Linked DNA regions of Homo sapiens: region 2 is linked to region 1. Evidence: fine-mapped expression QTL. A gene starts in region 1. The other region holds a variant in brackets. All regions are shown on one strand. Distances are from middle to middle.

What was found.
Region 2: its variant is fine-mapped to the expression of DDB1 in whole blood (TOPMed, PIP above 0.99).

The regions. Positions count from the first base shown.
Region 1 is chr11:61,329,018-61,340,079 of GRCh38, forward strand. DDB1 (damage specific DNA binding protein 1) reads right to left here and starts at 4,088. Exons shown (of 27, transcript NM_001923.5): 1 at 3,891-4,088; 2 at 2,526-2,674; 3 at 941-1,057; 4 at 346-567. The coding sequence starts at 3,951. TKFC (triokinase and FMN cyclase) reads left to right here and starts at 4,211. Exons shown (of 18, transcript NM_015533.4): 1 at 4,211-4,312; 2 at 5,603-5,714; 3 at 8,924-9,113; 4 at 10,049-10,159; 5 at 10,237-10,418. The coding sequence starts at 5,712. RefSeq lists enhancers at 3,650-4,172, 4,173-4,695 and a silencer at 4,091-4,350.
Region 2 is chr11:61,247,197-61,258,258 of GRCh38, forward strand. It overlaps PGA5 (pepsinogen A5), which reads left to right. Exons shown (of 9, transcript NM_014224.5): 6 at 1,223-1,339; 7 at 2,473-2,617; 8 at 2,720-2,818; 9 at 3,936-4,248. The coding sequence ends at 4,085. Among named protein-coding and RNA genes, the nearest start is that of PGA5, 12 kb to the left of the region's middle. The variant T/C (reference allele first, on the strand shown) is at 6,213.

The DNA of each region.
Region 1 (11,062 bases):
ATTTCTTGACAACTAAGTTTTAATAATCCCCTAGCACTCCAGTAAGAGAATCAAAGTATAAACTGGGTCATCCTATGAAATCTCCCAAGGCCCACAACCAGAGTGTAATCTCAGGATTAAAACCTGCTACAAGCCCCAGAGAGCTTGCTGCCTCCACAATAAGTACTACTGCACTCAAGAAGCAACGAAAGTCTGACCCATATTAATTGTGTTGTTCAAAACATTTCAGGACAAACACATTAAACACTTCTCTCTATCCTACCAAACCCAGACATGCCAGTTAGCAAAAACAACTCCTATCACATCAACCTCACAGTTTCTCGCTCTCTCTTCCTGATCCAGTACCTGGTAGACAAAGCAAATAGTAGGTGCTTGGCAACCATATAGGAACTTGACATCAATGACATGCAGCTCCTCCAGGCGGATGTTGAAGGCCTTGAGTTCTTTATTATCGCGATCTAGTGGAATAACCTTGAAAAGGCCATCATAGAGACGCAGGCCAATCATCCGGCACTCAGGGTCAATGATGCCAATAATGCCGGTCTCTGAGGGGCGGCCAATGCGGTCCTGAGAAACAAAATCGGGATTAGGGAAGAACCTCAACATCCACAGAGCAACAGAGGACGCTGGGCACCACTTGTGCAGAAAAATTTTAGGAGAGGTATTAAAACTAATGGATCTATTTGATAGGCCAAATAGTTGGAGCCCCAATGTCAGTGCATGCCTTTTTCATGAAACACTGAATCTCAATGAATTATTACCCTGTCCCTTGGGTCTTGAGTGAACTACAGGAGTCCTTTCTCCAAAAAGCTCAAACCCATAGTGTCTTCTCCTTATTTCTCTGATCGAATAGAGAGCTGCCCCCAGCACTTTAATTTTTTCCATGAATCATGACAGCCCTACTTAGAAAACTTTCATTGGCCTAAAGCAGCCACCTCACCTGGACATTGCCATGGGCTCGCGTAATGATGTCAATGCTCTCGCCACTCTGTTTATACTCCAGGATGCAGGCATTGTACTTCGCTGTCAAGATAAACAGCAGGTCCTTGCTCTCCCCCTGGAAACCAATATTATGCTATCAAAAGAGGTTCTTTTTAAAACAGGAACAACCTGTCCAGTCTTTAAGCACACCAAATTCTTTAAGAATTTTCCAAATTCTTCTCTCCCTAAAGAGAAAATACATGGTGAGCTTGTAACCCACACTAGGTACACATACACCCTAAGGGCATGTACAAAAAGCCAGAACTGAAGCTGGTAAACATCTAGTTCTCACTTTCATGATTCTCCATCTCTCTGTTCTACAAACAAAGTCTTCATCTATTTCAATCTCAAGCTAATCTCAATCATCCCATTCAAATTCTGAAAGATGAATGTAATGCCTCCTCCACTCCTCCCCAAGTATTTGAAGAAAGAGGAAAAAAAATGTGGGAATAACAACGGAAGCTAAAATGGATCAACAAAGTCCTACTTATTTAACACAGACTCCAAAAAATTGCTGTTTTGTTCAAAGGGTTATAATTAAAATTTTGAACCCACTGCTTTCTTGCCAGATTCAGTTAAGACAACATAAAGCAATGTGGTGGTGATTTGGATGAAAACATTTGCGCTAAAATAATGAAAATACTGATGGTAATTGTTTTTTTTGTTTGGTGTTTTTTTTTTTGGAGATGGAGTCTCGCTCTGTCACCGGGCAATGGGCGCCATCTCCACTCACTGCAACCTCCGCCTCCTGAGTTCAAGCAATTCTTGTGCCTCAGCCTGCCAAGTAGCTGGGATTACAGGCACGTGCCACCACACCCGGCTAACTTTTGTATTTTTAGTAGAGATGGGGTTTCACCATGTTGGCCAGGCTGGTCTCGAACTCCTGACCTCACGTGATCCACCCACCTCGGCCTCCCAAAGTGCTGGGGTTACAGGCGTGAGCCACCATGCCCGGCCTGGTAATTGTTAACATAACTGTAAATGCTTGCTATATGATAGGCCCTATGTTACTGAATCATTTCATCGTCACAACAACCCAGGGGATTTGATCTGAAAGGTGCCTTAAGTGGCACCTAAAGTCAGAATTAACAAGAAATGAAGCCAGGACTGCCCCACTCTGTAGCCTATCCTCTGAAACAAACTGCTTTAATTTCTCCCTTCTAAAGAAGTCAACTTCATAAATGTTTCCCTAATGAATCTCTCCTTTTACTTCTAGAAAGCTTGGTCAAGAGTACATACTGAAATTTGCTATCCAAAGAGAGAAAAAAGAGAAGAGTTTTTCTCCTAAAGCATATTCCACCCATCCCAAGAATTCGCAAAACAACCTAACACAGCCCAAGCACGGTGGCATGCCTACAATACCCCAGCTACTCTACTCCAGAGGCTAAAGTGGAGGGATTGCTTGAGCTCAGGAGTTCAAGACATCCTGGGCAACACTGTGAGACCCCCGTCTCAAAGAAAATAAATAAACAAACAAAAATAACATAAAACAACCTACGACCAACAGTTCCCCCTCCACTGCTTGTCCCAACTGCAACACTTACCTTGGGCCTGAAAAGCTCCATGACCGCAATCTTCCCATACATGCCCACCTCTTTGACGGGCCGAAGCCCCTCGGCGGTGACCACATAGATCTCTAATCTCGTGTTTTTGGCAATCAACAGGTTTAAGTCTTCGGCCGAAGTAAAGTGTCCTGAAAGAACAGACCCTCTAACTTTTGAACTCAGGGGAAGGGCCTCCCATCCCTTCAAAATAATCCTATCACTTATGTCTAAATACCTCCAGAATTCTCATTTACTTCACATACTTCTCCAACTCCCTCCAGCTACTCCCCTTCTTGCCAAATCCGGCACCTCAAAGAGTCTCAGTTCATGCATTCAACAAAGCTACTTCCCTAATCAGACTAAGAAAACTGGACTGGACCTAAGAGCCGTGTGTCCTCCAAATGACAATGACTGCGTAATCCCTTCTCATGCCTCTTGCCCCTCCAATTTTACTCTATTACAGTTACAGTGGCAGGCTCTAATTGAGAATGCCGGAGAAAGTGTTCACTTCTTCCAGTCTTCATCTAAAGTCTCACAAAACTTTTATCTGACAGACCAAGTCAAATGAAGAAGTCCCAGAGCTTTATATGAAAACACTGTTTTGTCCACACCCCCTGCCCTCCTGGCAGTCTACCAATACCTCCATCCACACTCAGCTACCTCCAACTCTGAACAACAGTTTTGTTTTGGAATCATGATTAGGGTGTATATAAACATGCAAGCTTGGGGTCTGCATATTCAGCTGAGAATGTGGGTTAAGATGACTCTTCCCGGGTTCTGAACATCGGTGTCCTTAACAATCCAAGCGCATCGTCAACAAGGCAAACCCAGCACTGGGCCAGGCAAACCAAACCCTCTTCTCCAGCAGGGCCCTCATGTAAACAACAGCCCCAGGCAAAGGGGTTAGCCTGAAGAGGGCTCCTCTCCCTCTGTGGGATAATGCGGGCATTCCTCACATCCCTCCACCTCCTGGGCCCCCCAGACTTCCCCACAGGAAAATCTTGACCCCAAAGTCGTCATTACCACCTCCCCTTTTCCTGGCCACAGAAAGCCAATCTCCGGGCCCAAACGACACCGCACAACCAACTCACACTCCTCTGTCTCACTGGGCCCGCCCTGTTCTCGAGGCCGAATGACCTCCCCAGGACGAAAGGGGACCCTCGAGAGCGGCTTCCAACCCCCAAAAAGCGCGTACAGGGACGACTCTTTCGAGGTCGCGGTGCTGGGGGAGGTTCCTCGGCCGCCAGCGCCTTCCATTCGCCGGGCCCACTCCTGCCCGGCCGCCCCCGGGGCGGCGGGCCTCCCTAGGCCGCGGCTCCCCCCAACTCCCTCACTCGCCGGGGTCTCCGGCCCCGGCAGCCTCACCGGTCACGCAGCCGTTCACGGCGGTGGGCTTCTGGGCCGTTACCACGTAGTTGTACGACATGTCGAGGCTTGGAGCGGCCCGTCGGGACTCGAGCGCGACACTAGAAAGAGGGACACAAGCGAAAAGACAGGTGGCCCCCAACAGCGCGCAGCGAACTCCACTGCCGCTGCCTCCGCCCCAGAGACACGTTGCAGGCCAGAGCGGCCGGGGCGCGGGGCATCACGGGACGGCCTCACCTGGCCTCTTGGAGGACTCCCGAAGCCCGAGGCCGCCAACCGAAGGAGGCCCCGCCCCCGGAGGCACCGCCTCGCCTCTTTCCGCCAGCGCCCGCAGGACCCGGATGAGAGCGCACGCTTCGGGGTCTCCGGGAAGTCGCGGCGCCTTCGGATGTGGCGGATGCGGCCGTGAGCCGGCGGGGGAGGTGCGCCAGTGTCCTCCGAGCTCGCCCGCAGACTCCCCACCCCGTTCCGCGCCCTTTGCCCTTCCCCGCATCCAGTCCTCCTTCCGTTGCTCCAGGAGCCCTCGGGCTGTTCCTCCTTTGGGAACGGGAAGGACTGCGGAGGCATAGAGAGGGAAGGGAGACCGCGATTCGTGCATATCCCAGACTAGAACCTTGCCTGCTTTCCTTTCACTGTCTCAGTTCCTCCAGATCCAGCTGGTGCCCTCGCCTGACGTTTGAACGACCACCTGCTCACCTCCTCCCTTTTGCGCGTTGATTCTTCAGACTTCAAAGGGCCCACCGGTCTGCTTGCCCAACGTTATTAGTGCCCCTATTGCTCTACAAATTCGAACCTCAAACACAAAACCAGTATTTCTCCGTAGGGAACCTTAATGAGCCAGGAGAGCCGTCAGCCCTGCAGCCTCCAGGGTACCCCACATCAAACAGGCTCCCCGGGAACAAGAGGAATACCACGTGGCTTGGCACACTCGCAGAATGCCAGAGAGGAGCCAACCCCCATTTTACAGATGAGGAAGCTGAGGCTTAGGGAGGAATTGGTTTACCTAAGACCCTCCCCACAACCCCAAGTAGGCTGAGGCAGAGCTATGTTGATTCTTCCTATTGTGCACCCACACAGAGGCCAACACGCTGCTGAACCAGGCTGAACTGAGGAAAAGCTAGAAAGTCATCGTGGTTTACATCTTGCCTTTCCCATAGCAGAGACTCTGCCTGACTTTGGAGGCACTGAATTATCAGTAGTAAAAACACACTCTGTAGAAAAACTAGACATTGGTTTAGATTCTGGCTGTTACCTGTATTACCTTGGACAAGTCCCTAGAGCTCTCTGAGTCTGTTTCCCAGAAGTAAAATGGGTCACAAACCTGGCTAGCTCCCCCCATTCCCTTCCCTTTTGGTGCCAAGGCCAGTGAGGGCAAGCGTGTGACGAGCTTTGTTAACTTTTTCGCTGCATGTGATGCCCGTGTAAAAGATAGTTATTCTGAGGATCACTGTCCTTTAGTGATGAAGTGGGTGCTGTTCCTGGACATAAAGGCAGACCTGTGCTTGACATGGATTGATCTGTCTTCTGGCAGTGAAGTGCAGGCATGAACCTTGGTCAGCCCCACACTCTTCTCCATCCGTAGCCCATGTACTAGAGTTTGGACTTGGACCGAAGTCTGGGGCAGCTCCCTAATTACTAGGGTGCTGAAGGCGTGATTGTGCCAGTCGACTGCGAGTTCCTTCCGCAGCTTGTATCGTTACCCACTCCTGCAGGTGCTGCTGCTGCCTCCACTGTACTCAGACCCAGGTAGCACAGGATTGTCCATCCTCCAGCAGCTCAGTGCAACGGTGTGAACTCAGCCTGTTTCAGAGCCTCCACACCATGGTGAGTCATACAGGGCCGGGACGGGAATGGCAGCATGGTCTCAAAGCAGGATCCCAGCCTTGGGCAAGCTAAAGCTCCTTACACTTTGACTGAGAGATGCTATTGCCTCCTGAGGCTCACGGGTGAAGAGAGAGGGTCATCCTCTCTCCCAGGGTCTGATCCCTGCTTTTCTTTGTTTCCTGGAGGCTGCTGGTCCCAGCCAGGCCTGGGGCTGCAGCCTCTTGAGTCCCTTCAGAGCCACTCTGCCCCTTATCTGGGTCTTGCATTCAGAGTAAAACAGTAACAGTTACCTGCTCTGTAATAGACATTGTACCGGTCACAGAAGGAATCGTGAAGAATGACCATGTGACCGTTCCTAACCTTGGGGCTTATGTGGGCCGGTCTGGAGCTGGGATCTACAGTGTGGGAGGCTGGCCATGTCCCTGGGCTTTGCTCCAGGCCCACTGATTTGAACCAAAACAAGCCTTGAACATATCTGGATTCAAATTTCAGCCTGCCACTGACCAGCTGCATGACCTTTTACAGACCTCTCTGCGCCTCTTTTTCTTCATCTGCATTATAAGGCAAATTAAGGCCTACCTCCAGTGGTTGTGTGGTGTTGATCAAGCAGAGTCCTGGAGGCCTCACTTGACTTCCTTTCCTTTTCCATCCTTTCAGGCCACTGAAACCAGGGATAGCACTGGTCCCTAAACCCTCTTCTGGCTCTGTAAAAGACAGATTATCATGATGGGGAGCAGGCCACTTTCTTGGAGGGTAGTGCTGCTGGAGGCTGGGCTTGGAGTGAGGCCAACTCACAACTTCATTGTGTGTTCCAGTCCCTGGTAGGCTCTGAGAGCCACAAACCCATGTCCTTTCTAGGGCAACCTCTGTCACCCTCCACTTCCCTCCAGCCCCTCGAGAAAGCAGCATGATATGGCCAAAAGGGAACCAGCTTTGGAGCCAGGCAGACCTGGACACCTGCTGGCTGTGTGACCTTGGGCAAAATAGTTTAACTGTGCCTCAGTTTCCTCACTGGGCTCATCTTTCCTCCATAGGGCTGTTGGGAAGTTTTGTTTTGTTTTAGTTTGGGTTTTTTTTTTTGAGACGGAGTTTTGCTCTTTTTGCCCAGGCTGGAGTGCAATGGCGCAATCTCGGCTCACCACAACCTCCGCCTCCCAGGTTCAAGCAATTCTCCTGCCTCAGCCTCCCGAGTAGCTGGAATTACAGGCATGTGCCACCACGCCCAGCTAATTTTGTATTTTTAGTAGAAATGGGGTTTCTCCATGTTGATCAGGCTAGTCTCGAACTCCCAACCTCAGGTGATCCACCCGCCTTGGCCTCCCAAAGTTCTGGGATTATAGGCATGAGCTACCACACCCGGCCTGTTGGGAAGATTAAATGAGACATGCTCAAAAACACTTAGAACTGGGCCTGGCTCTTAGTCACTGCTCAGCAAATGGAACCAATCTTATTGTTCTTCTTGCTCCCTACAGACCTAGGCTACTCTGAAGCAGGTGGCTTAGCCCTGGCCCTGGCTGGATGCAGGACAGGTTGGCAGGGAGGCAGCAGAGCCAAATTTTGTACAAAGGAGCTGGTGCTAGCAAGCTCAGGAAGAAGCCACAGCCGGAAGTTCACCTTGCCAGGACCTGGCTCAGCTGCAGGTTCCCACCGGGCCACCAGGTGGCGGTGGGAGCCCAGCCCTCTGAGTCCACGTTGGGCCCCAGTCTCACTCTGTCTTCAGGACAAAGCCAGGGGCTGCAGCCCTTGTTCAGCAGACTCTGGCTTTTCACAGCCTGTTTGAAAAAGGGAGTAGCTTCATTTGATTGAGTTTCCACTATATCATGGGCATATACTCTGTTCTAGTAAATCCCTATTTTACAGAGGAAGAATTTTAGCTCCCGACAATGATGTATCTTCCCTGAGTTCCTGCAGCTAATGAGAGGCAGAAGTGGGATTTGAACCCAAGTCCCTGTAACAGCAGAGCTCAAGCCACACTCCATTCTGGCCCCCACGCTACTCACTTCTGTCTGCACCCTGTATCCACTCAGCCAAGCCTGGCGGCACTGCTCTGTAACCCTCCACCAGCCTGTCCACAACCCCTCCTGAGGCTGCCTGTGGCCAGTCCTCTCCTCCCCACCCCTTCCTGCTGGTCACCCGTGCTTCCTGGCACCACCACACTATTCACTCATCCAGGCCTTGGCTTATGCTCCCCCTCTGGCTGGAAGAGCCTCCCTTTTCCCTCCTCCCATGTCTCCTGCCCCCTTTTTCCCTACCCCGGTCCTGCTTATCCTTCCCAGAGACCTCCAGGCCCCTCGGGAGGCTGCGGCCCCTCCTCTATGCTCCCATGGTGCACGTGCGCTCCTCGTGTAGCAGTGCCCACTACACATGGCTGTGACCTCTGCTGTGTTTCCACTGAGGGCAGGAACAGCATTGTTATCTCTTTTTTTATTTCCGAGATGGAGTCTCACTCTGTCACCTAGGCTGGAGTGCAGTGGCACGATGACAGCTTACTGCAGCCATGACCTCCCAGGTTCAAGTGATCCTCCCACCTCAGCCTTCCGACTAGTGGGACTCCAGGCATGCACCACCATGCCTGGATCATTTTTCATATTTTTTGTAGAGATGGAGTCTCATCATGTTGCCCAGGCCGGTCTCAAAGTCTTGGACTCAGGCGATCTGCCTGCCTCAGCCTCCCAAAGTGCTGGGATTACAGGCATGAGCCACTGCACCTGAGCTGTTATCTCTACACATAGTGTCTAGTGCTGGGCCTGGCATACCAAGAGGCTGGGGAAATGTTTGCCCCGCGTTGGAGCACCAGGGAGCAGCGGTGGCTGTGGAACCTGCTCAGCTCCTCCCCCAGCATAGGAGCCTCAGCCTGAGGCTTTTCTTCCTTTTGACAGAAGAAGGTGTTGGGCCCCAGTTTTATTAAAATATTTTACACTGCAGGCAACCACTCCCCCATTTTCTTTGTATTGCAGCCATTTTTTCAGAATAAATTGAAGGTATGGTGCAAGACACTTCATAAATTAGGTACTGAATAGAAAGTCACACATTACTGAAAACTCACAGAAATACCCACCTAAGATGTCGCCCAACTCAAGGAAGTCCTGTGCTCCTGGAGTTCCTAGGTGGATGCGGGAGAGGGGTCTACACCACAGCAGTGTGGCTGCGCAGGATGGGGGTATCTGTACTGACCACATTCTGACCTCCTTCTCACTCCTCCCTTGCAGACCTCCAAGAAGCTGGTGAACTCGGTGGCTGGCTGTGCTGATGACGCTCTTGCTGGCCTGGTGGCCTGCAACCCCAACCTGCAGCTCCTGCAGGGCCACCGCGTGGCCCTCCGTTCTGACCTGGACAGCCTCAAGGGCCGGGTGGCACTGCTGTCGGGTGGGGGCTCTGGCCATGAGCCTGCCCATGCTGGTGAGTATCCTGGGGTGGGGCAGGGGGTACTAGTGGAGTGGACAGGGCCTCCTGGGGGATCCTTAGTGCTGCCATGAAGTGCAGGATGGAGCTCAGCCCAGAATCAGGAACTGGGGTACTTCCCACTCTCCCACTCCCTCCGGCTGGGATCAGGGGCCCATCACGGCCTCTCTGAATCTGTTTCTACATCTACAAATCTACGAAGTTGGGCCAAACAATCTCTCAAGTCCTTCTAGCTCTGAGAGTCGGTGATTCCATGAATCTTCTGGACCCTCCAAGCCCAGCAGACCCACCCCGATTCCATGAAGGCTTCCTGACTCTTCCAGCCTACAGCAGCACCCCTCTTCTGAATTCCCACCTGCTGTGTCCCACTTGTGGACTGTCCTGGCTTCTTTCCTGTGTGGAGCCAGGGACGCAGACTCTCCTTGAGGGCTGCTGGAGGGCAGGGACTAGGATGCGCGTCATTTCTCTGCTTCCTGTCTTCCTTCAGCAAAATCCATTCATTTGGCAAACACTCATGAGCCCACTGTGTACCTGGCGCTGTACTGGGCACTAGGGATACCAGACAGGCAAGGTCCCTGCCCTCGTGGAGCTTATATTCTACTTAGGGGAGACAGACAATAACCAAGTAAACACGAAAGTAAATGAGATCATTTCAGAGGGTGCTAAGTGACTTAGTAAAGACAGTAAAATGGGGCAAAGGAACAGTGAGTCCCTGGGGAGGGAGCTGGTGACTGCTTCAGGCTGGGAGGTCACAGAAGGCCTCTCTAAGATGCCTCCTAAGAAGGAGTCAGCCATGTGAAGACCTGGGGGATCTTTGAGCACCAAGCACACAGTAGGGCTCACCAAACCATGACCCCCGGAGTGTGGGAAGCCCCAGTGACTACAGGCGCGAGTCCCACCCAGCATGCTCACTCCACTCCTTCCACCTCCAGGTTTCATAGGGAAGGGGATGCTGACTGGGGTCATCGCGGGAGCTGTGTTCACCTCCCCGGCAGTGGGCAGCATCCTGGCAGCCATCAGGGCCGTGGCCCAGGCCGGCACAGGTAAGCCTGGCATGCAGGAGGGGCTGCGGCAGGGAGGGCACAGTAAGCACACTGAGCCCTTCCGGCTGCTCCCGCAGTGGGGACGCTCCTTATCGTGAAGAACTACACTGGGGATCGGCTCAACTTCGGCCTGGCCCGGGAGCAGGCCCGGGCTGAAGGCATCCCGGTGGAGATGGTGGTGATTGGGGACGACAGCGCCTTCACTGTCCTGAAGAAGGCAGGCCGGCGGGGGCTGTGCGGCACGGTGCTTATACACAAGGTGGGCTTCCACCGGGGACGTGGAGACTGGCCAGCCCTTTCCAGCCTTCCCTTGCCTGGCAGCACCCAGTAACTGGACCTTTCCAGCCCTTCCCCAAGAAGCTAGTTCTTTTTCTCCAGTGTTCCCTGATCTCAGAAGGCCCCGCCATCCCCTCAGCTACCTAAGCCCAGATACAGGCATTTTCCCAGACTCGTCCCCTTTTCTTCTCCACACCCAATCAGTTGCCCGGTCCTGGTGCTTCTCCTCCCAAATGTACAACACACATCCTTCTCAGACCCCGCCCTCCTGCTTTGCCTTGGTTCAGGGGTCATCTACTCATGCCTGATGGCTGCAGCCACCTCCTCACTGGGCTCCCCTGCCTGCTTCCTGCCTTCTGGCCTTGCTCATCCATTCTCCACACTACTGCCAGAGGTGTCTTTTTAAAATGTGTATCTGACTAGGTTATTCATCCACTGAAAGCCTTCTTGGGTGCCTACAATCAATACAAGCCCTCACCATAGCTCCCTGACTCCCCACCTTCATCTCCCATCATCCCTGCCTTCCTCTTTTTTTTATTTTCTTTTATTTATTTTTTATTTATTTATTTATTTTTTGAGGCAGAGTCTCACTCTGTTGCCCAGGCTGGAATGCAGTGGCGCGATCTT
Region 2 (11,062 bases), 82 kb before region 1:
TGTGAGATGTTCGCAGCAAAGGTGGGGTGGGTTCAGTGAGTGGGGTCATGTTTTAGAAATGGCCAGTTCTCGGATGATTAATTTCTTTTTTTTTTTTTTTGTGATGGGGTCTCGCTCTGTCGCCCAGGCTGGAGTGCAGTGGCGCTATCTCGCCTCACTGCAAGCTCTGCCTCCTGGGTTCATGCCATTGTCTACCTCAGCATCCCGAGTAGCTGGGACTACAGGCATGGGCCACCATGCCCAGCTAATTTTTTGTATTTTTAGTAGAGATGGGGTTTCACCCTGTTAGCCAGGATGGTCTCCATCTCCTGACCTCGTGATCCACCTGCCTTGGCCTCACAAAGTGCTGGGATTACAGGCATGAGCCACCACGCCCAGCCCCGGATAATTAATTTCTTATTGCCGTCTACATTTCCTTCCACATCTAACCTGAAACTGCAGAGATTTAGAAAATGAATATTGCAATAACAAGGACTCCTGCAATTTACAACAGGAAGGCTCTTTGTCATGTATTCTTCTTGGCCAGTTAATGTTCAAGGTGGCTCTGAAACATCATCTGCCTTTATGAGCACTTAAATATTTCATGTGGGGCCATTGTATCTCCCCAGCCAGATCCGAGTTTCTCAATCTGGGCACTGTTAACATTTCAGACCACCATAATTCCTTGCCGCCAAGGACTGTCCCGTGCATTGTAGGATGTTTGGCAGCATCCCCAGCCTCTACCCATGAGATGCCGGCAGCATCCCCTACCCCCACCCAATCATGACAATCCAAAATGTCTCCAGACATGCCCCTGGGGGCAAAACTGCTCCCAGCTAAGAACCAGTGACCTCCACCCTCAAGTCCTTAAGAGCGGACACTGTCATGCATTCACTTCCCTGGGGTCCCCATGGCAACCAGAGTGGGTACCACGGTGGAAACCACACATTCAAACTATAAGGCCTGTGTTCTTCCAAACGTAGTTCCACCACTCCCCCGCTGTGTGACCTTGGGCAGGTGGCCTCACCTCCCTCAGGCTCAGTGTCCTCATGGTAAGTGGAAACAACAGTGACGGTGCCCACTGCATGGGCCCTGGCCTAAGAGGAAAAGAAACCACATTGGTCACACCCCAGGACAGCCCTGGAAAGTGCCCAATCAACGGTCGCTCTGAGGAGGCAACAGCAGATGGTCACACAAATGGACGAACAAAAAAATTCATGTCTTCTCCCCTCACTTTCCACAGCGATGACAAGAGTGGCAGCGTGGTGATCTTTGGTGGCATTGACTCTTCTTACTACACTGGAAGTCTGAACTGGGTGCCTGTTACCGTCGAGGGTTACTGGCAGATCACCGTGGACAGGTGAGACTGCCATGAACGGGCAGCATCCAGGCCTGGGCCCCAGATCCCATTTCCTTATGGATTCATAGCCAATCAGCTTTCCAGAATCCCCCCAGGAACAGCTGGCACAGGGGAACACACTCCAGGGGGAAGGTGGAAGTTGGCCAAGCCAAAGAGACCCCTAGAAAGACACCTCCCTGCAGGAGGAGGGAAGAGCTGTCTGGGAAGCTGAGACTCTGCAAGGGTGAGATGGCCACTGTCCTCCTAGTCACGGAGGCAGGACCATCCACCAGCATCCCTGGGGAGAGCTGGGGGACCCACCTGTCCACGCATCTCACAATTTAAGGGGGCTGTGAACAAGCACACGCTCCTGCCACTCGAGGAAACATGTCACTTTCCGTCTAGAAGTGGGGCAAAATGGCTAAGAAATTGTGTGAAGTCACTTCATTCCACCCTCCCCTTCGGGGCCTCCCCTGTCTCCCTGGCAGCTTCATTTCTACGCTGTTCTTCCCCAGCTAGCCTGCTAGCGTGCTCAGTGGTGTGGGTTTTCCCAAGAATGAACAATTTCCCAGGACAGAGACTTTCAGTACTAAAACTGGGACCAGCCCAGGCAAACCAGGACACATGGATCACCTCATGTCTGCCCAGCCATGCTAGAATTTCACCAGTTCCTCCAACACCTGCCCCAGCCCTCTGGTCTCTGTACCTCCCCGCATACCATCCCCTGATGATGTCCTCCTTCTCTCTTCACCTGCCTGGCATTCCTGGGTGTCTGTTCCCCTGGCTGCTCCCCTCCACCACCTCTCACCCTGGGCCCTGTTTTTGTTCCCTGCCTCATGCCTGACTGATCATCTTGCCCTTCTGCCAACATAACTTATCTTGCCAGCTAGGCCGGGAGCTCCCTGCAGCCTGGAACTGTGAGGCTGTCTTGTTTCGCTTGGCGTTTCCCATGCCTGGCAGAGGGTAGGCACTTGGGAAATATTTGTAGGGTAAATGAATGCGGGATGAATGAGTGCGTGAACGAGAGGAACAGAAATTTCACGCATTGGCCAATGGATGGGTGGGGAAGGAATGTCTGGGCTCACCTCCTGGTTCCTCCTTGGAGAGATGAACCCCTGAGGGCTCAGGGAGCTTAACTTGCTTCTTACCCTCAGCATCACCATGAACGGAGAGACCATCGCCTGTGCTGAGGGCTGCCAGGCCATTGTTGACACCGGCACCTCTCTGCTGACCGGCCCAACCAGCCCCATTGCCAACATCCAGAGCGACATCGGAGCCAGCGAGAACTCAGATGGCGACGTGAGTCCAGCCCCGACTGCCCTGTTCTACACTCAAGTAGTGGGTGTGCCAGGCAGAAGCGACGAAAACCCTTCTAACTTTTCTCACCCTCACTCTTTCCAGATGGTGGTCAGCTGCTCAGCCATCAGCAGCCTGCCCGACATCGTCTTCACCATCAATGGAGTCCAGTACCCCGTGCCACCCAGTGCCTACATCCTGCAGGTGAGGAGGCTCTGGACCATCCACTAGAGAGGTTCACACAGAATGTGGACACAGAGTCCCCTTCTGCAGAGGGAAAGTACACTTCCACGAGCTGAAGCCAGCAGGCAGAGGCAGACGAACATCTGCCCTAGACAGCCTCCAGAGAAAAAGAATATATTAAAAACAAATGCAGGAATAAGAACTCGGATACAGCCCCCTAAGGGAACAAGTGAAGCAAAGGTTAATGGAGTGAAAAGAGGATTCTATTTGGACCCCTGCGTCCAAGTCCTGGGTCTGAATTACTAGCCCATTGATTCTGAACAAGCTACAGCTCATCTCACCCTCAGTTTTCGCATCCAAAAGGTAGAGATGGCAGCTTTCCCCACCCTCAGAGTGCGGTTAGGTCAACCAAGTGAGACTGATCACATCAGAGCTACCAAGGGTTGGGCAAATGGAAATCCTAATTTCCATAGGCTGGGGCTTCCAACACTTCTACCATCTCTACCAAGTAGCAAATCTTTAGCTATACGAGCCACAAGAAAACTCTTTCCCTTCTGTTATTATAACGTCAGGTGGAAAACTAATTTTGCCAGTGGACTCAAGTTATTCAACAAGAAGCACTGATGCCTGGGCTCCCCCACTGATTCTGATTACATTAGGAGAGGGCAAGGCCTGAGCAATGGGATGGGGCTGCGGGGGTTCAAAGCTCCCCAGGTGATGTGCAGACAAGGTCGCAGCCCAGTGACTTAGTGAGGCAAGAGGGCTAATAGCTCATCTGGTTTGTCCCTGATGAGATAAGAATAATAATGAGAAAAGGATGTAGTGGCAGGGTTTTTAAACTCCTTCCTAGCAGCTGAATTCTACCTAAGCCCCTTAGCACCGATGCTGATGTCAGGGTTCGTGTGCCTGCCAGAAACACCAGATAATGTCCAGTAATGCGTAGAAACCAGTCGTGCATTGGATGGCTTCTACAGGCTGACTCCAGGCCAAGAACAGCCGAATCCCTGGACACTGAGCCAGGAAGCTCCTCCTTGCACGTGCCTTACAGCTGGACCAGGGCTCCCTGGATGTTTATCACCCAGCGCCTATCACGGCTGAATCGGTGTCCCAGCTCCACTTTTATTCTCCTTTTCTCCAGAGCGAGGGGAGCTGCATCAGTGGCTTCCAGGGCATGAACGTCCCCACCGAATCTGGAGAGCTTTGGATCCTGGGTGATGTCTTCATCCGCCAGTACTTTACCGTCTTCGACAGGGCAAACAACCAGGTCGGCCTGGCCCCTGTGGCTTAAGCCTAAGTCTCTTCAGCCACCTCCCAGGAAGATCTGGCCTCCGTCCTATGCCCACTTTAGATGTATCTAATTCTCCTGACTGTTCTTCCCAGGGGAGTGTGAAGGTCTTGGCCCTGTTCCCTGTCCTACCAATAACGTAGAATAAAAACATAACCCACTGAAACAGGTTTTGTGGAGCTGCTTCTCTTTGCTGGTCTTTTTCCTTCACATTACTGGGGTTAGAACGCCAGGGCAGGGATGAAAATGACCACATCCACTTGGATGGCACCCAACATAGTGACCCCAGCAGCTGACACTTCATGATGGAGCCAGGAAGACAGAGAGGCTTCAGGGGGTTGTGCTGGAAGCATCATAAAAAGACCTGGGGGCCAAAATACTGAGCTAATTGTCTTCTCATAGAAGGGACACAGAGCTGAGATCCTGCCATTGTACTCTATCCTGGGCGACACAGAGAGACTCCAGCTCAAAGAAAAAAAAAATAGGGCACTGAAGCTCTTAGTTGAGGGAGTCAACTTCTTCTTTCTCCCAAAGCCAATAAGAGATCATGAGAAGGCTGGGCACAGTGGCTCACACCTGTAATCCCAGCACTTTGGGAGGCTGAGGCGGACAGGTCACCTGAGGTCAGGAGTTTGAGACAAGCCTGGCCAACACAGTGAAACCCTGTCTCCACTAAAAATGTAAAAATTAGCTGGACATGGTGGTGTGTGCCTGTAATCCCAGCTACTCGGGAGGCTGAGGCAGGAGAAGCGCTTGAATCTGGAAGGCAGAGGTTGCAGTGAGCTGAGATCGCACCATTGCACTCCAGCCTGGGCGACAGAGCGAGACTCCATCTCAAAAAAAAAAAAAAAAAAAGAGCTCATGAGGAAAGGAAAGCAATCAGGAGAGTCAGGAAAGGCGGACACTAATGGTGATGTCCCTAAGTAGATAGGACAGGGCAGTGTTGTCTGCAAGACATGGACAAGAGAAGTGGAAGAAGCTGACACCCCACAATCTTATAGGATGCCCTTGTGATTCGCTGGCTACCAAGACTAACAGTTAATCTCCCCCAAGTCCCAGGCATAAGACACTGAATCCATCTGTTTCCCCATCTGTAACCAAAGAGAAAGGTCTTCCACTTCCCTGAGCAGAGGTTGTGAGACAGAGAATTAAGCATGTTCATTAGCATATATGCCCTAGAAAGGCAAAGAGGAAATGGAGCAGTTTCTCAGACTGGGCTTGGTAGCAAAATGTTCAATGGAAAACACAGTTTCAGAATAAGTATAGAACATGCTACATTCTAGGCCCTTCCCCAGGGTTCACCAGCTACAGTTCCCAATCAAAAGCTCTGACAAGTCCTGCTGCAAAGTGATCTGTTTCTTTTTTACTCAGCTGAGCTTCATCTCAGACTCTCTCTTGCTAGTAAGTCTATTACAGCCCTGGGCTCCCCGGCATGCATGCTGGGAAAATTCCCATAGCTCCTGCTTCTGGTGACAGCCGACCTAGGCTGTCTGCTGAAGACACAAACCCAGAGGCTGGAGCTGGGCTCTAGGAAGGGCGGGGGTGAGCTCCAACACCCAGTCTCCCCAGGGTCACTCTCACCCTCCCAAGCCCATTTTCCATAGCTGAATAAACTTTAGGAAACATAAATTTCATCTCATCCCTTCCTTGCTTTAAACTCTTAATGCCTTCTTGCCATTGCCGTTGGAATAAAACAGCAAATCTTTGGCATAGTTCCAGGTCCTGTGTGCTCCTTTCCCTCCAAACCTTCCCTGCTTCACTCTGATCCCGTTACCCTGAGCTCCGTCCACCCTGGCCTCCCACGGCCACAAAAGCCCATGTGTTCTTCCCACCTCCAGACTTTGCACATGCTGTTCCCTTTGCCTGGGTTGCTTTTCCCTCTTTCTTGACTAGCTAACACCTAGCATCTGCAGACGTGGCTTAAATGTCACTTCCCAGCCGTGTGTGGTGGCTTATGCCTGCAATCCCAGCACTTTGGGAGGCCAAGGCAGGCAGATCAGCTGAGGTTAGGAGTTTGAGACCAGCCAGGCCAACATGGTGAAACCCCATCTCTACTAAAAATACAAAATTGGCCGGGTGTGGTGACCCATGTCTGTAATCCCAGCTACTTGGGAGGCTGAGGCAGGAGAA[T/C]TGCTTGAACCTGGAAGGTGGAGGTTGCAGTGAGCCAAGATCACACCACTGCCCTCCAGCCTGGGCAACAAGAGTGAAACTCCGTCTGAAAGAAAAAAAAGCATATGGCTCAGTAACTTCCCTTCTGAAAATTTACCTTAAAGATACACTAGTAGATGTGCAAAGCGATGTAAGGACATGATTTTTTGTAGCATCATGTGGAAAAGCAAGATTTGAAATGACCCAAAAGTGCATCCACAGGAGTTGGTTCAACAACTTATGGTGCATCCACACAATATACAGCTGTAAAAGGAAGAAGCAAATGTGCTCACTGGGTGCTAAGATGGAAAGACCTTTTTTTTTTTAAGACGGAGTCTTGCTCTGTCTCCCAGGCTGGAGTGCAGTGGCATGATCTCAGCTCACTGCAATTTCGGCCTCCCGGGTTCAAGCAATTCTCCCGCCTCAGCCTCCTGAATAGCTGGGATTACAGGCACCTGCCACCACACCAGCTAATTTTTGTATTTTTAGTAGAGACGGGATTTCACCATGTTGGCCAGGCTGGTCTGGAACTCCTGACCTCATGATCCACCCACCTCGGCCTCCCAAAGTGCTGAGATTACAGATGTGAGCCACCACTCCCAGCCTCGGAAAGATCTTAAAAAGAGGGTAAGTTAAAAAAAAAAAAAAGTGAATTACAGCGATTTTGAGCCTCTGTAAGTTTGTCCTACTTAGAAACCTACCGTGACTTGCCTTCAGGCCATGCATCTAATAACCTTTAAAATCAGGTCTCTTGAAACAGGTCTGATCATTCTGCCCTTTGAGAAGCTGCCAGGTGCAAGGGAAACTGAGGCCACAGAATAAGCTTCCGACACACCCCCATTCTGTTCTGTTTCTCAGAACCCTAAAAGTGGAATCCTAGCTCAGGAAAAATGCAAGGTGTCTCCATCCAAGAACAAACACTCCCTTGCTTGTTGGAGCACAGGCTCCCGAGAATTCAGAGCAGCTTATCCCATTAAAGGCACTGCGCGCCCCGCTGGGGGCTTCAGGTGGACTCCTGCCTCCTGGTGCACTGCGGTTTACCGTGCACAGAACATGTGCTTACATGGCCCAGTGAGAGCCCTGACCCAGCCCTCCACCCATGGCTCCTGCACCTCTGCCCCAAGAGCCTTCTGGTGCCTGGGGACAAGCAGAAAGGCAGGCTCAGTACTATGGCAAGGCCAGCAGGGTGTGCTAGAGAGCCAAAAGCCCAGGACAAGGCTCGACCAGTGAGGGACGAAAGTTGAGGGACAACTACTGGTGCATCTTCACACCCTTGGGGGACAATCCTCAGGCAAGGCATGGGCTCCACAGTCTTCCAGAAGGTCCCTAGGACAAAGTGCCAATTGCCCATAGCTGCAACCGGCTCATCAATGCCCCTTGATTGGTCTTTTTCTCTTGGCTCTCACCCGAATACTATCTCTGGGTCTGCTTTAGGGGGAACCCAAACTAAAATAGTGTTCACAGGGCCCCTCCTAAACTGTGGGCCATCAGCTGTCTCTCCAAACACCAACAGGAGAACCTCATCAGGTGAAATGTGAAGCGAAGGAAAAACACCTGGACTGGGAGTCAGACGAATGAGGCTGTCTTCCCATTCAGCCGTCATAATCTGTGCAGCCTTAGAACACTCTCCTAACTTCTCTGAGCCTCTGCTTCTCAGCTGTAATATTGGGTGGGGAACAGTCCAGTTAAACATGTTTTTATACTCGGAAAAACTTGGGAAAAGTGTTTACAGCTGTCCCCCTGCCCCACCCCCAACCAATCTTTTTTTTTTTTTGAGATGGAGTCTCGCTCTGTCACCCAGGCTCTGAGTGCAGTGGTGCGATCTTGGTTCACTGCAACCTCTGCTTCCCAGGTTCAAGCGATTCTCCTGCCTCAGCCTCCTGAGTAGCTGGGACTATCGGCACATACCATCACGCTTGGCTAATTTTTGTATTTTTAGTAAAGATGGGGTTTCACCATATTGGTCATGCTGGTCTTGAATTCCTGACCTCGTGATCCGCCCACCTCAGCTTTCCAAAATGCTGGGATTACAGGCATGAGCCACCACACCCGGACTCCTTTTTTTTAAACATTCAAAATGAACATCATTGACATGAGTCCTATTTGCAGAGGCAGGTGGGGGGGACTAGTATTAAACTTAAATTGCATGCTAACTTATTGCATAAAGGAACAGCAATGAGGAAATTGGCACTAATTTTTAGCCACTACCATTTTGACAGATGGACTTGTTTGAAAAGTTGCAGCATGGGGGCAATGAGAATTCTACGCTTTTATCCTGAAATCAGACCCCACGTGGCATCACCAAGCCGGGTGGGCTGTAGCAAGTTTAGGGGCCACAGGGCCACAAGTGCAAACCACTGAGACTTATGGAGGCATTATCACACGTCATTGTCACAACTCCATAAAGTAGGCCTGTTATTATCCCCATTGTCCAAATAAGGGAGCAGAGGCCTGGCGCGGTGGTTCATGCTTGTAATCCCAGCACTTTGGGAGGCCGAGGCAGGCAGATCACCTGAGGTCAGTTTGAGACCAGCCTGGCCAACGTGGCGAAACCCCATCTCTACAAAAAATACAAAAACTAGCTGGGCATGGTGGCGTGTGCCTGTAATCCCAGCTACTCGGGAGGCTGAGGCAGGAGAATCGCTTGAACCTGGGAGGTGGAGGTTGCAGTGAGCCGAGATCATGTCACTGCACTCCAGGCTGGGTGACAAAGCAAGACTCTGTCTCAAAAAATAATAATAATAAGGGAGCAGAGACCTAATATCCCACAGCTAGTCCAGCTGAGCAAGGCTCCAACTTGAGATTCATTGGCTGCAGACCCCGCTCATGACCATGACCCTTTGTATCTTACTGGACAAAACGGCCTCTAAGTCCTTTGCCTCTCTAAACTGTTTGGTTTCCATGCTCCTATCTCCCACATTTATTATTCCTGCCACCAGCCGCAGGTTAGAGGCCAGGACTACACTGTCGTCTGGACTGGATACCAGGTTGCCTTTGCAGCCAGGAAACACTTCAGCAGACCCTTCGCCCTGGGACACAGAGTGAGTAGCAGGTCAGAGAAGGGCTCAGAAGAGGGCGGCCTCGGCAAAGCGATGGGCCATGCCCGGGGGTGCTTTCACTCCGCAGCCTCCATGGGTTTCAGTGGTAGCAAGTGTGGGGCTGCAGGCCCGTAATCCCAGTACTCAGGGAGGCTGAAGTGGGAGGATCGCTTGAGCCTAGGAGTTCAAGACCAGTCTGGGCAACACAGCGAGACCCTATTTCTACAAAATTTTTTTAAAAGTTAGACAGGCGTGGTGGCATGTGCCTCTAATCCCACCCACCCGGGAAGCTGGGGTGGGAGGAAGGCTTGAGCCCATGAGGTTGAGGCTGCAATGAGCCGTGATCATGCCACTACACTCCAGCCTGGATGACAGGGCAACATCCTGTCTCAAAAAAAAAAAAATGGTAGCAAGTGGTGACTTGGTGACAGAGCAGCTTCTGCTTTCCAGCCCCACATCACTTCCCTTATCACAAATCCGCATCCCCCCATTCATGACGGCACTGTCCTCTTTCCGTCTCTCATGCACACTGTGCTACACTGCCCAGATCCCCCCACTAGGACTGAAGGATCAGTCTCCCAGCTGCTGGGAAGGTGGTTGATAGCAGCTCTCTGGTCAATATGAGGCAGAAAGCCCTGCCCCGTAGCTCCAGCTCAGGACAGCTCCGAAGGGCCAGCCTAACCCCAGAGCTCCCAGAGGGGGCTGGCTGAGGCTTCGAGAAGGCCCAGCAGCCCCAACTCTCCCTCCCTGCTCCTTCCCCGCTGCCCACAGGTGTTCCTGCTGAAAACACGTCTTAAGAAACTGCTGGCCCGGCCCGGCGCGGTGGCTCAGGCCTGTCATCCCAGCACTCTGGGAGCCCAAGGTGGGCAGATCACCTGAGGTCAGGAGTTCGAGACCAGCCTAGCCAACATGGTGAAACCCCAACTCTACTAAAAATACAAAAAATTAGTCAGGTGTGGTGGCGGGCACCTGTAATCCCAGATACTCAGGAGGCTGAGGCAGGAGAGCCGCTTGAACCCAGGAGGCAGAGGTTGCAGTGAGCCAAGACCTTGCCATTGCACTCTAGCCTGGGCAACAAGAGCGAAACTCCATCTCAAAAAAGAAACTGCTGGTCTGTCATTTCGTCTCAGAGGTTCCTTCCCAGAAGCAAGTCCTCTCCATCATCTTTTCCCTTCTCACTGTGGAAGCCCCCCAGTGTCTGTATGGTATTCCATGGTGTACATACTATGCAGCCATAAAAAAGAATGAGATAATGTCCTTTGCAGGAACATGAATGGAGCTGGAGGCCATCATCCTTAGCAAAGTTACGCAGGAAGAGAAAACCAAATACCGCATGTTCTCATTTGTAAGTGGGAGCTAAATGATGAGAACACATGGACACATAGACACGAAAAGCACACACTGGGGTCTATGGAAGGGTGGAGGGAGGGTAGAGGGAGAGACTTAGGAAAAATAACTAATGGGTACTAAGCTTAATCCCTGGGTGATGAAATAATATAATCTGTATGACAAACCCCTGTGACACGAGTTTAACTATATAATAAACCTGCACATGTACCCCTGAACTTAAAATAAAAGTGAAAAAAAGAAAAAAGAAAACAGAAAAGAAAATCATGATCTTGGGGAAAAAAATAAAAAGAAGTCTCCCAATATAAAAGGCCGCCAAGTGCTTACAGGAGACCCTTCCCCAGCCCAGTCACAATTTGGTGCCAGCTTTTCTCCCCAGCAGTGGGGTAAAGGTGGATGCTCACTTACCACCTGTGGGCTTGGGGTCACGTTTCCCACCTTCCCACA